2 separate regions of the Homo sapiens genome follow, and region 1 is linked to region 2. Evidence: fine-mapped expression QTL. A gene starts in region 2. The other region holds a variant in brackets. All regions are shown on one strand. Distances are between the middles of the regions. Region 1 has its middle 230 kb from the start of CTNNB1. Region 2 holds the start of CTNNB1 (catenin beta 1).

Region 1 (8,335 bases), 230 kb before region 2:
GATGGCTTATTCCTATCATTTTATTAATTGATTTCTGATTGCTTTATATGTCTTTTATTCTTTTCTTTTTACTTATTGTTTATCCTTGTGATTTTGTGGTTTTCTATAGTGGTAACAATTGAATTCTTTCCCTTCTTTATTTGTGAGTTTCTTCTACTAGTGGGTTTTATACTTTCATTATTTTTCTGATGGTAGATATTATCCTTTGACTTCCAGCTGTAGGACTCCCTTAAGCATTTCTTTTGGGGCTTGTCTAGTGATGATAAGTTCCCTCAGCTTTTGCTTGTTAGGAAAGACTTTATTTCTCCCTCATTTATGAAGAATAAGTTTCCTAGGTATAGTATCTTTGACTGGCAGGTTTATTTTGTTTTGGCACTTGAATATATCATTTTATTATTTCCTGTCCTATAAGGTTTCTGCTGAGAATCTACTGTTTGTCTGAAGCAAGTTCCTCTATAAGTGACTAGATGCTTTCCTCTTGCTGTTTTAAGAATACTCTGTCTTTGACCTTTGACAGTTTGACTATAATGTGCCATGAAGATCTTTTTAAATTGTATCTATTTGAGGATCTCTGAGTTTCCTGTATCTCAATATCTAAATCTCTTGCTAGACTTGGGAAGTTTTCAGTTATTATTTTGTCAAATAGGTCTTCCATCCCTTTCATTTCCTCTTTGCCTTCTGTTTATAGCCAAAGAAATCATATGAAGATTATACTACTGCATGCACCCAGAATCAAAGCCAAAGAGCCCTACCCAATCAACATCATATGTATCTTCAGAAAAAAGTTCTCCTCTACAAAAGCAAATTCAAAGAATTGGAAGAAGTAACTGTTACACAAGACGCACAGACAAAAATGTAGGAACACAAGAAACATGAAAAAGCAAGGCAATATGAAATTCTAAGAAATTCTAAACCAGAAATTTTTTTGATTGCTTTATGGTATTCTGTATGTTACGTAGGCTTTGTTCATTCTTTTTTCTTTATTGTTGTTTGACTGGGTTATTTCAAAAGTCCTGTCTTTAATTCTGACTTTTTTTTTCCTGTTCAATCTGATCTATTCTTGAAATTTTCAAATGTATTTCGCATTTTATTCAATGCAAAGTTTTTCAGTTCTAAAATTTTGTTCTTTTTGATGGTAGCTATCTGTTTTGGTATATTTCTCATTCAGAATCTGAATCACATTCCTGATTTCTTATATTATTTATCTGTGTTTTCTTATACCTCACTGTTTCTTTAATCATATTATTTTGAATTCTTTTTCCAGAATTTCATAAATTTTTTTCATTGAAATCTACTGCTGGAGAATTTTTGTGTTCATTTGGAGGTGTCATATTTCCTTGCTTTTTTCTGTCTCTTGTGTTCTTTACATTATCTGTGCATCTGGTGTAATAGTTACTTCTACCAACTTTTTGTATTTCCTTTTGTAGGGGAGGACTTTTTTCTGAACGTGTGTCTATGGTATTAGCTGGGTAGGGCACTTTGGCTTTGATTCTGAGTGCCTGCAATAGTGTGGTCTTCATATGGTTTATTTGGCTATAAACAGCATTCAGTGGTATTTGTGGCTTAGGGTGCAGTTGTTAATGGAGGCTGTGGTGAAGTTTTGCTGAGGATGGAAACACCAGGTAAATCAGTCCATGGGCTTCAGCAATGGCAGTGGCAAACTGAGCATTCCTGTCCTTGGGCCCTAGGGCAGCATACACTGGCATCAGTGTTCACAGGTTCAGGTGGGTCAATTCTTGGGCCCCTTGAGGACTTGCTCAGGTGCTAGTAGTTGCCATCATGGACCTGGTGGATGGGTGAGTAGGCTTCAGACCCTGAACAGCAAGCATGACATGGGCAATGGCAGTATCAGTGGTGGAACAACTGTCTGGCTCCTGAGCAGCCTGCACTGGTATTGCGGGTGGCTGCAACAGGATGGGTGGGCCAGTCCCCAGGCCCATATGTGGCATGTGTGGGTAGGTGCCAGCTGTAGTGGTAGTGACACATTGGGTGGGCTCAACCTCAAGCCCTCTGGAGGAGTGCTTAGGTATCAATGATGGTGGATGGGGTTAGGTAATCCTCAGGCCCCCGGGAAGCATGCTTGGGCATTGGAGAGGGTGAAGCTGGGCCAGGAGGACCTGGTTGCACATGCAGGTGCTGGCTGTGGTAGGCAGGGGTTGGGTGATTTTCAGGCTCTGGAGGAATGCTTACATGAGTGCAGGTGGCAGCAGCTTCACTGCAGCCCTCCTAGGGAGGGAAGGGTTGCTTTGAGTGGCAGAAGCAGTAGGCAGGTGGCTGGGGAGCATGTATTTCAGCCCCAAGCGGCAGTGGCAGGTGGGAGTGTCTATCCTCAGGGCTCATGAAAATGTGCAGCAGCTTGCACTTCAGCCTTGGTGGTCAAGAGGTTCTTTCGTGGCTAGGATTGCAGGAGTCTGTGTTGGGAATGCAGACCACTGGGGGTCTCTGACTTACCCTTTTCCTGCATTGGAGAGCCTCTCCATACTCCTAGCCAATCAGGCTGCCTTGCTTTCCTCTCCTTCCTTGCTTTAGGTGTTTCCTATCGCTTTCCTGTTGCATTCCAGTGTTCCCTCTTAGATGATCTATTCTAAGTGTGATTATCCACTCACTGTTTCAGTTCTTTGCAGAGGAAGCAAGTACCAGATGCCTCTAGTCAGCCATCTTGAAGCCTTGTGTCTATTAACTTTTATTTTCATTTTCAAACTATAAAATTCCTGTTATTTTCTTAATTCAACATGCTTTTATGAATGTAACAATATAAGCGTTTTAGTTCATATAGAGCCTCATTGTCCCAATCTTTTCTTAACCATTAGCCCTTCTAGCGATGTGGGTTTTTTTTTTTTTTAATGTAACCATTATGACTAGGGAAAAGAATATTACCCAGTAGTTTTCCCCTAAGTTAAACAAGAATTCCTTCTCACCCACTAAATTGAGTCACCCTGCTAAGGCCCCCATGAGCCCCTTTTCACTTTCTGTATTACTAAGCCCTTTGCCCAGCCTGACTAGATGGCAGCTATTTCCTGTGGGTCAGAGGGTTTTTAAGGCCTTTTTTGGAATTCTCCTTTCCTCTGGCTCAGGTATAAATGGTAATACCAAAAGGTAGTAGGTGGTATTTTAAGGAGACTGCTAGTGGACCTTCAAATGCTTTTCATTTCAAAACTTTAATTTTAATAATATTGCTCTCTTAGTTTGGGCTCCCTTAAAATCACAGCCTGAGACTAGACACAAGGACTTGGTGCAGGTGGTTTATTTGGGAGGAGATCCCAAAAAGCAGAGGTGAAAGAAAAGGGAGAGAGTGAGACAGGGAAGAATGAAAAGCCACTGAGTGTGCATCATTAAGGTTGCTGCTTTGGGCAACAGGGGCTCAATTCTTCTGTGACCTTTGGCAAGTGTGCAGAATGCCTTCTAGAATGTTCCCTCCAAAAGAGGAGTGGCTAGACTTGCTTACTGGCTCTCATTCTTCACTGGTTAGAGATGGCTCCTAGGGCGTTACCTCTCCATACTTGCAGGTTGTACTTGCTTGGGGGCTGACTGGGCTCCCAGTTTCAGAGATGGCTTTGAGGCAAAAAAACAGGGAAGCATTTTTCATGTTTCAAGAGGGCATTGTCATGGGAACCCACATTGCACTCTCTACCAGATCTGTGACAAAATCATAGGTGTGCTGAGGGGATTTGTTACAGGGTGCCAAAAGCATCAGCTACGAGCATATTGTCCCTTCTGAATAGACTGTTCCCCATTGTCCCTGTGGGGACACTTCCCCACCAATGGATCACCTGGTCATTGCTGTCCAGTCCACATGACATTGATGGGGAAGGTCACTGCTATTAGCCTCCCTTGACCGATGTCAGGGCTGTAAGGATCACTCTCCTCCATCTTCCTTCCAATCTAGCCCCTTGTCCATATCCTCCCTCTGTGGAGCTCACCTGTGTCTGGAAGGAGTTGTGCAACCTCAAGTGGCCTCAGTGAAAGCTGCAGTTGAAGAGAGCAATTCAGTTGACCACAAAGGAATGTGACAGAGAATCATCCAACGCTGCCTAGAACATCTCTCCTGCTCACCTCACCTGGCATGCTCACATGCAGCCATGTGGTCAGGGCAATACCGAGGCTGAGTTCAGTGCCACCCTGTGCTGCCCCTTGCCGGTGAACTTGTCACACTTGTTTACACATGTTTGCAGGCCTCTTTCTTATGGGCATCAGCAGCTTGTTGAGGACCATTCTATGTCTTCATTTTGTGCTCAGAACCTAATGTAGTGCCTGGACACAAAGGGTTCTCAGCAAACACTTGTGGATACAAAGGAGGGAGGGAGGGAGGGAAGAGGGAAGTCGGTTGCTAGGAGATAAAATGATTTGCTTATAGCACAGTTGCCAAAAATAAGTCACAAGTGGGGACTTCCCAGAACTAACCGTTCAGTGCAATACTTAGCTGAAATCTATTGCAAAATGCAGTACTTACTTAGGCACTTACTTTTGTCTTTATTGTTTTTTAAGAAAGAGATGCTCCAAAGGTCAGTGACTCAGACCACTAGGTGACTTGGCTGTGGTTTCCTATGAGTCAAGCCTACCAGACAGCAGAGGACAGAGGTGAACAGGAAACTGGGCCAGAGAAAAACCAGAGAAACAGAGAGTCAACACAGAC[G/A]TCAAGGAGGCTTCCGCCCAGCTCTCTCAGGCCAAAGGGGCAGACAAACCCGTGAACTCCCAGATATTCATGTCCAAGTGAATGCAGCTGTACGAACTTCAGCTTGAAAACTTCTCTCAAATAGCAGGTGGGGAGAACAGGTAGTAAATGCCTGGGGTTGTGGCCGCTTCCTTCCCCAGCAGAGCTCTGCCCCAATGAGAACACAGGAAGGGTAGATAAGAGAGCAAAGTGGGCAGTTTTTCTTATTTATTTGTTTGGGTAAAGGAAAAACAAAACAAGATGTGAACACGCATATCTTCACAAACTGTAAAATTTATCTCTGTCCTCTATTCCCTGCATCCTTCTCCCTACTCTAACATCTTAACAATCCTAATATTTGCCTATTGTTACACAAAATGTACGCCAGTAGATATCAACATACCAATTAAAAAAAAACGAAAAAAATACTTTGCTGTTTTTCCTTGAAAGCACAATGACATGAGGCATCTTTGGAGAGAAGAAGCTGCCACAATCCGATGCCTCCTCGTACCTGCTACTAGCTGTGTAGGCTTGTCTGATCTAGCCCCCTGGATGTGAACAAACTAGAGCAACAGGGAGAAGCAGAGATGCAAAAGAGTTAATCATACAAATTGCTGAGTGTGCACAGGAAAAACATACTACATTTGTAATTGTGTTTACAGTGTACAAAGCACTCTCCCATATTCCTCATAATCTAACAACAATCCTGAAATCATCACTATTTACGATGCAGAAACTGAAGGAACAATAAATGGCATGTCCTATGCCATACAGCTAATACCAGGCAGATCTTGGCATTGAACTAGAGCTGTCTGAGCCTAGACCAAATATTGTTTCCAGGATTCTGCAGCAAACTCTACCAACTAGGTACCTACAGCCTCCCCTAACCTGCCTTCGGTCTCCTGAGCAGAAGTGTTTATACCTCAGTCCCAGCATGCAATAACCGTAACAGGTAATAAGCACCTTGGAGAAACACCAACTGCATCCAAAAGAGAGCCTGGTTCTGATAATTCTGTTTCACTAACTTCTAGAAGACAGAGAATGAACAGCTTAGGTGAACATTTAGATGAAATTAGAAAAAAAAATGTTAAGGGAGTTGAGTATTTGTTAAAGGTCCTTGAACATGCAATTCTAAAAGAAAAGGAAGCTCAGAGAAAGACACTGGGATCTTCCAGAACTGGGAAGAGCCTAGGACCTGAGATACAAAGATCTAGAACCAGGGAAAGCAGAAAACTTCACCTACAAAGTTCCATGTGCTGCACTGGGCCCTCAGCCCACACACATGCCTAATTCTACATCTTGGCTCTCCAGTCTTCTTCACAGACAGCGCTTGGTGCCTGGGGCCTTTCCAAGAAGAAAGGTGTTATAGTGTAAGGCTCTGGTGCCAGTCATGTTGGACTGGCCTTGCTAACACAAGACTGTTGTAGAGAAGAAGAGGAGGTCTGGTGTGCCCCAGGGACCACCCCTTGGCATAGGCCACTGTAGACGCAGCATGAACATGCTGGGGTCAGCAGGGCAGCCAGGGCTCTATTAAAATTCTAGGCCAGTTGGCACAAAAAAGAGAATAAGAATAGGGTGTCAGTTGGAGCCCTACACACTGAGCTGGCCTGTGGTTTTAAATATCGTGCAAATGCTGACAAGTCTCGAAGGTATATTTTCAGCCCAGACCTCACTTCCTAGCTCTAGACTCACTAGATGATATCACACATTTGGATATATCATATTATCTCAAACTTAATTTGTTTAAAATGAAACCTATAACCCATTCCTCTCACCGAGCATCCACCAGTTGCTCAGGTGAGAATCTGGAATTTGTCCCTGAGTTTCTCTCTCCTTCTCACTCCCACAGTTAGTCCATCACCGTGTCCTATTATGCTTCCAAATTCATTTACCTCTTTTCACCTCCAAGGCCATCTCCCTAGACCCAGCCCCCACCTCCTCCTACCTGAATCCTTGAAATCACATCCTTACCAGCCTTCCGGCTTCTATTGTGCTCTGACAAGAAAGCCAGAATGGCCTTGCCAAAGCTCAAAGCAGACTGTCCTTCCTTGGGTCTAAATCCTCCAATGGCTTCAGAACAGAATCAAAACTCTAATGGGGCCAGCAAATCCCTGCGGGCTCCAGCTCCAGCTGTCACCAGCCTCACTTCAAACTCCTTTTTCCCTACTTACATTCCAGCCCCTTCTTCCCCTGTGACACCAAACCCTTTCTGACTTCAAGGTCTCTACACTGTTGTACCCTCTCCCTGGAATTCCTCCTCTCCTACCTTTTGTGGGGCTATTTCCTTCTTATCCATCCAGTCTCAGCATAAGTGCCATCTCCTCAGACCTTCCCAGAGGCCTTTCCTCACCATCAAAAGATGATCCTTCCTGTTATCCTGTCTCATTGAATCCAGCTGTTTTATTTCATAGCAAACATCATAATTTGCTATTATATGCTGATTTGGTTTTCTTCTTTAATATCTGACCCTCCCTCTAGACTGCAAGCTTCATGAGGGGTGAGACCATGTCTGTTCTATTTATCCCTGTATCCTGAGAGCCCAGCACAGGGCCTCGTATATAATAAGGGGTCAATAATAGTTATTGAGTTAATAAATAAATACATTTAAAATAAATACATAAAATAAAAATAATGAAAACTAATTTGTTTCTTGTTCTCTCAAGAGAGCTTCTGCCCAGACCACACCCCACCCCTGCAACCCTTGATCTTTCTCAGTCCACTGTTGGCTCTGAGCAGTCCACACAGTTTAATGCTACATCAGGATGAGTACGCAAAGAGAAGCAAGAAAATCCCTCCCTTGAACATGAGCCACAGCCCTTCCCATCATTCCTTCCTTCCCTCCTTTATTAATTTAATAGATGAGCCCATATGTAATAAACATAATCATAACATAATAATAACTACATTTATGGAGCTTCTACAATTTGTTGGGCACAGTCCTTTATCTAGATTTTCTTATTTGATAATCTTTGGAGCCCTATAATGCAGTTACTTGTATTTGTTCTACTTTACAAAGAAGAAAATCAAGGCTTGGTGAATTAGGTTACCTTCTCTAGGTCAGATATTAGTAACTGGCAGAGCCAGGATATCTGTTTGGTACAGTAAGTCTAAGGCTTCAACCAATAAACCACACCACTTTCCAAATGTTCACTGCTATTCAATGTACTTTAAGATTCATCCAACAACTATTGAGCCCCCACAGATAAACCAAGCATTGTGCAAAGTGTTTGTGTGCATCTTCCTATCTTATTGCCACAACAACCTTGTAAGATGGGTCTTTATTATTCTCATTTTTGCAGAAAGGGGACTGAGATCAGGATTGTTGAAGCACCTTCATATGGTTCTTTGTGGAATATCAGGATTTGATGCAGCTCCCTCCCTCTGAAGCCATACTCTCTGCATTCTTGCATATTTTGCTTCTCTTCTCAGAGAAAGAAGCAGGCAGAACCAGGACTTGTGCATGCACACACTATGATCAGTGGAGTATAGCCTATTGGATTAAACCACTCCCAGAGAAGCCCTATTGATCTTATACCTCAAGAGTGGCTCGGGAAAGCCATGGGACAGGGGAGAGGCTTGAGTTTTGAAGTAGGACAGATGTCCGTTTAATTCTTTATCCCTCACTAACTGGGTGGCCTTGTGCAATCTACCCAATTCTCTGAGCCTCTGGCACCACTGAGAAAA
Region 2 (8,335 bases):
AAAGATCAAAAATTATCGATTTCATGGCGCTGCGAGGTCTGGAAAGAAAAGCTACTTTAAAATTTGCATTGTTTAAGAAATGACTTAAAAGAAAAGAATCATTTTTTTTTCTGAATACTTTGGAAGGTGAAAATGGCTTGTTTTAATCTTATCCATGATTTACTATAATTCTATTATTTTTAGCAGCTGGAGTCCAGAAATGATTTTTTCGATGAATTTAGGATTTTGCCGCAGTATACATCTGCAGTCCCAGAATCCTCCGGTAAGTTAATCCTTCTTGCGATGGGAAACGCCTTTAACCTTCTTGTGAATGAAATATCTGCAACCATTTTGAAATTTTTAATGGGGTGTGTGTGTGTGTGCACGTGCGTGTGTTGCGGGTGTGTGTCTCCGAAACATGATTTCTTAGAAATGCAGCGGTACTTGTCTGAGTTCTTAGAAACATTGAGAAACATATATACCTTTATGTTCTTTGAATATCATGGACGATGACTCCATTGCTTCTCCTTCATACTTTGTATGGTAGCCATTAAAATGTACTTCCTTAGTCTGGCAAACCAATGAAGGCCTCGAGTACACATAACTCCAAGCATGTAGGGTGTTCCTGACATAACTGAAGTGACCAGGCCATAGCAACCACCATGGCCATTGCCTCCCGCCACCTTCACCGCCCCTCCCTCGCTCTGCAGTATACATCAGCTGCAAGCTTTCCACAGTGGCTTTCCGCCGAACTTGCCCAGTGGGTTCCTAGATTACTTCTGTGTGCGAGAATAGCCAACCATGTAGTCTGACAAGAGGTATTTACAACTACTTAGCCTGTTCAGCTGGAAAGAAATCAAAAGATAACACTGAACCCTGAGATGATGTATTACAAATCAAAAGTCCCAATCCATAAATAGCCCACCTGATGAACTGCTAAATGAAAAGCTGATCCTGATTGTTGTCCAGTGTTTTTACATTGTCCTAAGAAATATTTTTAACAAGCCTTCTTGGAGAGTTGGGATTGTTTGTTTTTAAATGCATGGAATATTATTCTTACCTTTCTGCTGGGAAGGGAGCCTTCCGAGGGGATTCGGATGTAGAGTCCAAGTGAGACCACACCCTACTTTCACAGCTTTTTTTCTACCGTTTCTGCTTCTTTTTAAATAGGGTGGATTAACAGTTACAATTTTACATTAATTTAAGAGACTTAATCAAATGGAGCCAGTCATCCGTTTCCCTCTCTCTAAGGGAAGCTCATTGTCTTAGATGCTCAATAAATGTTTAATTAATGGATTTGATAGAGTTAAGTATCCTAAAAGTGAACGAACCTTCTTTACAATACTGGCATATTTCTGTGATTCATATTTCTGTCTGAAGTGTGAAATAATCTTGGCTTTTTTTTTTTTTTTTCCTCTCTTAAAGGTAATCAAAAGCCTCTGTTTTAGCGAAGGGATGCCTTACATTCAGGTTCAGTCTACCACTGCTTTATATGCCAGTGGCCTGATAGCGTGAAAAGAAATATCTTCTCTTTTAAACTAGCTGGAGACACTTTTGTTTCTAAGAACACAGCCTAAAAATTAGAACCACTTGTCTGTCGCCATTTTATAAAATTAATTTATGTCAAACCCGGGGTGACTGGCTCTAGAAGGAAAAGACATAAAACAGATAACCAACTGTTTTTATGAAATGTATTGTCCAAGGTCAATTCAAAAAAATTATTTAACAAAATTACTTATTTTACCAAACTCATGTATCTTGATAATGTATTTTTCTTTGATTTAATGATAGTGTTTGTCTTCATTTCACAGAAGTTATTCATCTCTTATTTTTGGTGAGACAACTAGAACAATTTCTGCTTTATGAAACATGCAAATAAAAATTAGGAGCAATGTTAAATTTAACTAACTTGGTTTAATGCTAGTCAACCAGTAATTCTTCAGTACACTTAATATGATGGGAAAAACAGCATGCTGCATTGTTGCAAATTTTACATTTTCTTTAATAAAATGTATTTGTTTACGGTGTCAGTAGGGATTAAAAATCATAATTCTAAATTTAAAGTATTTAAATTATAGAAAAATGATTCCATTATTTTGGTAATGGAACAGAGAAATACAAATATAGAAACGTTTTTATCCTTTAGATCTTCTAATGGTGCAGATATTTCTTAACCAATTTCAAGAGTGCCTTATTCAAAAACAAAAAACCTGCACATAGAAAAAGCAAACATGTTTTTTTAAAAAAAGCCCTGTAAAAGTGGTTAATCTGTCGTCTGATTTTCAATGTATGACTTTAATCAATTGCATATTCCTTAATTCTGCAAATGACAATTAAAATTAGGAATCAGTACCTGAAAACGCCATTTATACTTTTGAGTTTATATTAGAAACACGGTTTTGATGAAATACCTTTTTCGGTTCAATCTTTTTGAATTGTGACCACAACCAATAGCTACACTTAGATTCTACAGAATTAGTAGGAAAGATACAAATGAGAAGGTCTTTCTAGACAATGGATCTCACTGAACATCATCTTAGTGTGTAGACTTTTTCCACTGCAGTGGCCCACATGTGCTATGGTGACAGACGGCAGTTGGCATTACCACTTATATAGTAAAATATCTTTAAGACAAAAATAAAAGTTATTTAAAGAATACGCTGGCCCTGAAACATGAGCTGTGCCTTAAACTACATATCCTACCTCCATGAGTGAATGAATAAGTGGGTTTTCCGCCTGCATCTATGTGTTAAGACCTATTGTTTGCTTGTATTAATTGTAGTCCTGGGATAAAAGCACAGAGGTAACTTTCACTGCTGCTTTTTGTACTCTCTCCAATGTTTTGGAGGAAAAATAAGCACAAACAATAGCCTAGAGAAACTGAATCGATCATACTTGTTGCAGCTTCGACAAACGTCAATTTTGCTGCATTAGAATGGGAAACATTTTTCAGTCTATTGAAATGAATTACAAACGTTTTTAAATAGAAAATTAGTTAAAAAATTGGAGGCTGCTTAATCGATAGCTTTCTCTATAAACATACTTGGATTTCACAAATAAGTAATACCGTAAAAATCTTCTTCTCCAAAGAAAAATCCCCACAAATAAATCTATTGATACCTAGTGACAAGTGGAACCAGATAAAAATGGAATCTATAAGAATTAACCTAATTGACAGCGCTCTGGAGCTAATCCATTTCCATTAGTTATTTGTTCACAGTAGGTACTCCTAAGGACTTGTTGAATTGCGGGCTTGGCGCCCGTTCTACGGAGAGTTCACAGCCTTCGTGAGTGGGGACAGAAGGCGGCTCGGCCCGGTGATTCAGGTCGAAATTCAAGCTGAACAGCCTGCTGAGAGGTGGGATCCACCATCCGGACAGTGGGGGGCTTTGGGGGTGCTGTGAGACTGGGCTGCGACCCAGGTCCAGCAGGGAGTGTGCGGCACAGACCACAAGGTCGGCGAGGCCCCCTAACCCGCGCCCGGCCGGGAACCCGCAGACCAGCGACGGGGCAGCTGCGGGGCCAGGAGCGCCCCAAGACGGGCGGGCGCTGAACCCGAGCCCCTGCCGCCGCCCTGGCCCCGAACTTCCGCCCTCCCAGGACCTGTCCCGGCCGCCCCGAGCGGTACTCGAAGGCCGGGGCCGAGATGCCACCTTCCGCAGGCCGCGGGAAAGGCGCGCCGAGTCCTGCAGCTGCTCTCCCGGTTCGGGAAACGCGCGGGGCGGGGGCGTCGGGCTTGGGACAGGGGAGGATACCAGGGCCACCTTCCCCAACCCAGGCCGCGGGGGCCCGGCCTCCCCGATGCAGACCACAGCGCCCTCACGGGCTGCCCTCAGGCCGCGCAGCGGGCAGCCGCCAGCCGTCACCCCGGGGAGCGTCCGTGGGGTGCCCAGGCACCCCACCCCGGCCCGGGGCGCTCAGACGGCAGCAGACTGCTGGGCGGCGCGGGGACTACTTTCCACCGCCCCCTCGCGCCCCGCCCCTTGTCCTCGCGCGGCGGAACGCTCCGCGCTGCGCCGGTGGCGGCAGGATACAGCGGCTTCTGCGCGACTTATAAGAGCTCCTTGTGCGGCGCCATTTTAAGCCTCTCGGTCTGTGGCAGCAGCGTTGGCCCGGCCCCGGGAGCGGAGAGCGAGGGGAGGCGGAGACGGAGGAAGGTCTGAGGAGCAGCTTCAGTCCCCGCCGAGCCGCCACCGCAGGTCGAGGACGGTCGGACTCCCGCGGCGGGAGGAGCCTGTTCCCCTGAGGTGCTTGGGCGCTCCTTTCCTTATCCTTCCGGGGCTGCTCCCGCTTCCTCTCGGAGCCAAACTTCGTAGCAGGCGCGCGGTCCGGGCGGCGGGCTGGGCGCAGCCGGGAGGCCTGGGGTTGGGAGCGGGGAGCTCAGGTGGGGGACGGTGAGGGTGGGCCGCGCCCGGGGCGCGGAGGGCGGCGGCCGGGCCCGGGTTCCGGTCGCGCTGCCTCTCTGGGGCCCTGGGGGCATCGCTTGCGGGGAGGGGGCGCCGCGGGGGCGCGTACAGGAGCCCGGATGGCAGGCGGGGTGGGGGTGGGGGTGGGGGTCTGTGGTTTCCGTCCGGGGCTCTGGCCTTGGCCGAGTTTGGGGGAGGGACCCGGTGCCTCGGGATGCGCCGGGCCCTGGGTGGGGGGCGGGGTGGGGACGGGGGGCTCCGCCTTCTCAGCTCTTGCGGCGAGTTGGGGTTCGGGCGCTGAGGCAGAGACGCCACCCTAAGTCCCATCAGTCCTGGGGATCGGACCAGTGGACTTTCTCTTAAGATTTCCTCTTTCATTCTTAAGAATAGAAGTGTTATTATTTTTTTTAATGCCCTGGCTATGTGAGTTTGAATCGAAGCAACTTTAAACCTTAGAGCAACTAAACTCTAAGTGCAGCGGGTGCGATGCGTCAGTAGGGTGAGCACATAAAAAATCCATGTCTTGCACCTGTATTTTAGCGTACTATGCAGGTGAGTGAAAGCAGTGGATAATGTACTGGGAGTCTTATGGATTTATGGTAGTGGGTATGAGACCCTGGTGAAATAAGGGGGTGGAGGAAGGCGAAGGTGATGGCTTACTGTTTCTTACCAAGTGAACTGCAGGATTCAGCCTCTGACTCAGACCGCTTCGAGAATTTTGTTCGTAGAAATAATTTAAATTTATTCAAATAGTTTGATGGCAGCTAAAATTGAATTATAGAGCACGTTTTCTTTTCAGCGGAGTGAATTTTTCCTTCGCTCCAAAGCTGGCCAAATGGAATTCAAGCATTGCAACTTCTTTCAGTGTTTTGTCTGGAGAGAGGACTTTGAACCGAGACTTTTCGAAGTTAAGTTCCTATAGCCTGCTTCTGAATCTGCCAAGCTTGAAAGCTTTGGCAGTTGGGTGTATGTAGTTGTTGCCTTCGTTCTCTTCCCTTTTGGAGGGAGCGTTGTCTCCTACTTTGTATCTTCCAGACATCTGTGGTCTTCCCCCCACCCCTCGAGTTTGTGAGTGGTGAATGAAGAAAGACTAGGCTGCTGGTATGCAGAGGTCGGCAAAAGGAAATCGAGGAGTGGTTTTAGTGAAATGAGAGCTTTGTATCATGAATAATGGTGGCTTAGGCTAGACATCAACTTGAAGAGACGGCAGCATTTCCTTTCATAAAGTCTAGGCTAATGTTTTTCAGATCGCTAAGTTGTAGTTTGTCTGGAATTTAGGAAGCCATTTCAGTATTTGTCACTTGGTGAACGAACATTCAATACCTTCAGATGTCTTCGTGTTGACTTGTATTCATCCTAAGAAATAGTAAATATAGTCTCAAGTGTTATTTATGTTATACTGCTGGTTTATTCTCTGCTTAAATTATTGACATAAATTTCTACTTTGGAGGCTTTTCGTTTGAACTAAGGCTGTGCGGAATTTATTTTACTTTTATATTTAAATCTTTGAAAAATCTCTGATTAAAAAAAAAGTACCCTTAAAGGTTTGAGGATGTCCTTTCACACCAGACAAAATTTGGTTAATTTGCGCCCAATATTCATTACTTTGACCTAACCTTTGTTCTGAAGGCCGTGTACAAGGACAAGGCCCTGAGATTATTGCAACAGTAACTTGAAAAACTTTCAGAAGTCTATTCTGTAGGATTAAAGGAATGCTGAGACTATTCAAGTTTGAAGTCCTGGGGGTGGGGAAAAATAAAAAACCTGTGCTAGAAAGCTTAGTATAGCATGTAACTTTAGAGTCCTGTGGAGTCCTGAGTCTCCCACAGACCAGAACAGTCATTTAAAAGTTTTCAGGAAAAACCAACTTAAAAAAAAATAAGGTGGCTAATTAAAAAAAAATGAAGCATTTAACAGTGTTCAGGTTTCAGAGTATGGAAGAGGGGTTTTTTAAACTGTTATCTGATTATTTCTTTTACCAACATGATATAGAAAAGTGTATTTCCAGTATTAAAATTTATCAGACTGAGCTTACTGTTCCTGTTAATGACTGGAATAAAAATTGGCATAAATGAGGGTCTGTATGCTTGTTTTAATAACACCACCACCAAGATAGAAAACGAGGAGGCAAGTTTCTCCAAGGGTATTTTGAAATGTGTTAGCAAAACTATTGCAGATACTCGTTTTTGTTATAGGGTGAGGTGGGGAGAGGCGCATGCTAAGTATTGTTGAAACTAGGGATGTAGAGAATTAAAAGTTTGAATATAATTATTTTGTAGTTATAAGTAGCAGTGAAATTAAATCTCCTGCAATAGACTATAGAAGTATATTTAGCCAAATGAAACTTCAGTGTTATTGAAATGAAATAATACATCTGTCCTGTTACAAGATTATTTTTATTTCTCTTGTGGTTTCCTAGCTTCTGATAATCAATAATTGTAGATGAGTAGGTGGTAAGTTTTAAGTTTGTACTTTGAGCTTAGTCGGAAGCATGCTTGACTGCCAACCCGGGGCACAAAGGATGAAGGCTTTTAGAACTGGACAAACTTCTAACAAAAGGTATTTGCAACTCTTTTGTAGTGTGTCATGTTGATTTGTGACATTGTTTTTGAAAATATGTGTTAACTTAGTTTTCTTGTAGCCCTCTTTTTATTGGAACTGTGGTATCTATTGTTGAAACTGCTTGACTGAGAACATTTTTATACCATAAAAGTAAATAGTAAACATAGCCCAGGAGCGGCTTCTGGTTTGTCCATCGTATGTAGCCATTGCCTCCTTGTACTCTCATTGAGAAGATACTGATTTGCAGATTCAGTTGTCCTTCTCTAACAGACTATTTATGTAATATTGCAGTTGTGATTGTGATAGGTAAGTGGACCAGTCGGTTAAAATAAATACTCAGGTTTCACAAAAGGAAAATAATATGATTTGTGTTGATCTAAATGAGTATAGGAGTTAACTCCTATAGTTTTTCATCACTTAAACTCAGGGGAAAGTTCTTTATTTCCTCTGTTTACTTAAGAATGCTGCTTTTGTGTTTCATGCAAGACTGAGCTTGACTCAGTTTGAAACCTAGGCTCATCTGTTGAGGCCTGAACCCTGCTGTCCTTGAAGTATGCATATAATTTGCTTCCTTCCTAAGGAAAAATAAGCTCTTGAAAGATAAAGTCAATCACATTAGGAACCCATTTTTAGGGTTTAGCCACTTTTTTTTTTTTTTTTTTTTAACTCATGGGCATCTCTTCTGTTAAGAGACATTCCCCACTCTCCAAGTTTCCCTCAAGCCTGAAGCAGCAGAGTGAGTAGTGTTGGAGCATGTTTTCATTGCATGCTTGGGTCATGTTGAGTGCCCTCCAGTGGATATAGTATAATGCTTGTGATTTTTTTTTTTTTAATTCCAAACAAGTTTATGTGGGATATATTTAGGAATAGTTCTGATGAGGGAGAATCAACTAAGAAACCTTTGATTTCTAAAATAATTAATATCATTACTGCTAATTAAAATACAGGCTTGAGAAAATGTCTTCTCAGCCAATATTTGCAGTAGAAAAGTCGGGAGGTTTTTTAAGGTCACTTTGAGTAGGCAGTTCTGCTTAAATATATCATAATGATAAACCAGAATCTCAGTATAGTACTTTAGGAGGTAAAAGATCATAATATTCAGTTATATTGATGAATTACAGCAACTGAAATTCTCAGAAAAAAATTAATGAAAATGTGAATTGTCAATTTGTCTAAAATCATTCACAGAGTAAAACATAAGTGCTCAACTTGATTATATTAGGAAATAGATAGAAATAAAGGTAATTGAGCCAGTGTATGTGACCTAAAATATAATGCCCTTAGTGACCATAGGGTTGGTCTCATTTGTACATAGTGGTGGGCCATGATGAACTGTGTTTTGCCCTTTGAATTTTTCCTTAAAAAGCTTTCTCTAGGCTCCTATGTTC

Evidence for each region.
Region 1: its variant is fine-mapped to the expression of CTNNB1 in visceral fat (GTEx, PIP above 0.99).

The regions. Positions count from the first base shown.
Region 1 is chr3:40,967,313-40,975,647 of GRCh38, forward strand. No RefSeq gene overlaps it. Among named protein-coding and RNA genes, the nearest start is that of CTNNB1, 230 kb to the right of the region's middle. RefSeq lists enhancers at 1,461-1,961, 3,800-4,999 and a silencer at 4,292-4,341. The variant G/A (reference allele first, on the strand shown) is at 4,634.
Region 2 is chr3:41,195,445-41,203,779 of GRCh38, forward strand. CTNNB1 (catenin beta 1) reads left to right here and starts at 4,061. Exons shown (of 15, transcript NM_001904.4): 1 at 4,061-4,226. RefSeq lists enhancers at 1-749, 3,764-4,710, 4,052-4,111, 4,822-4,931 and silencers at 3,462-3,921, 4,352-4,471.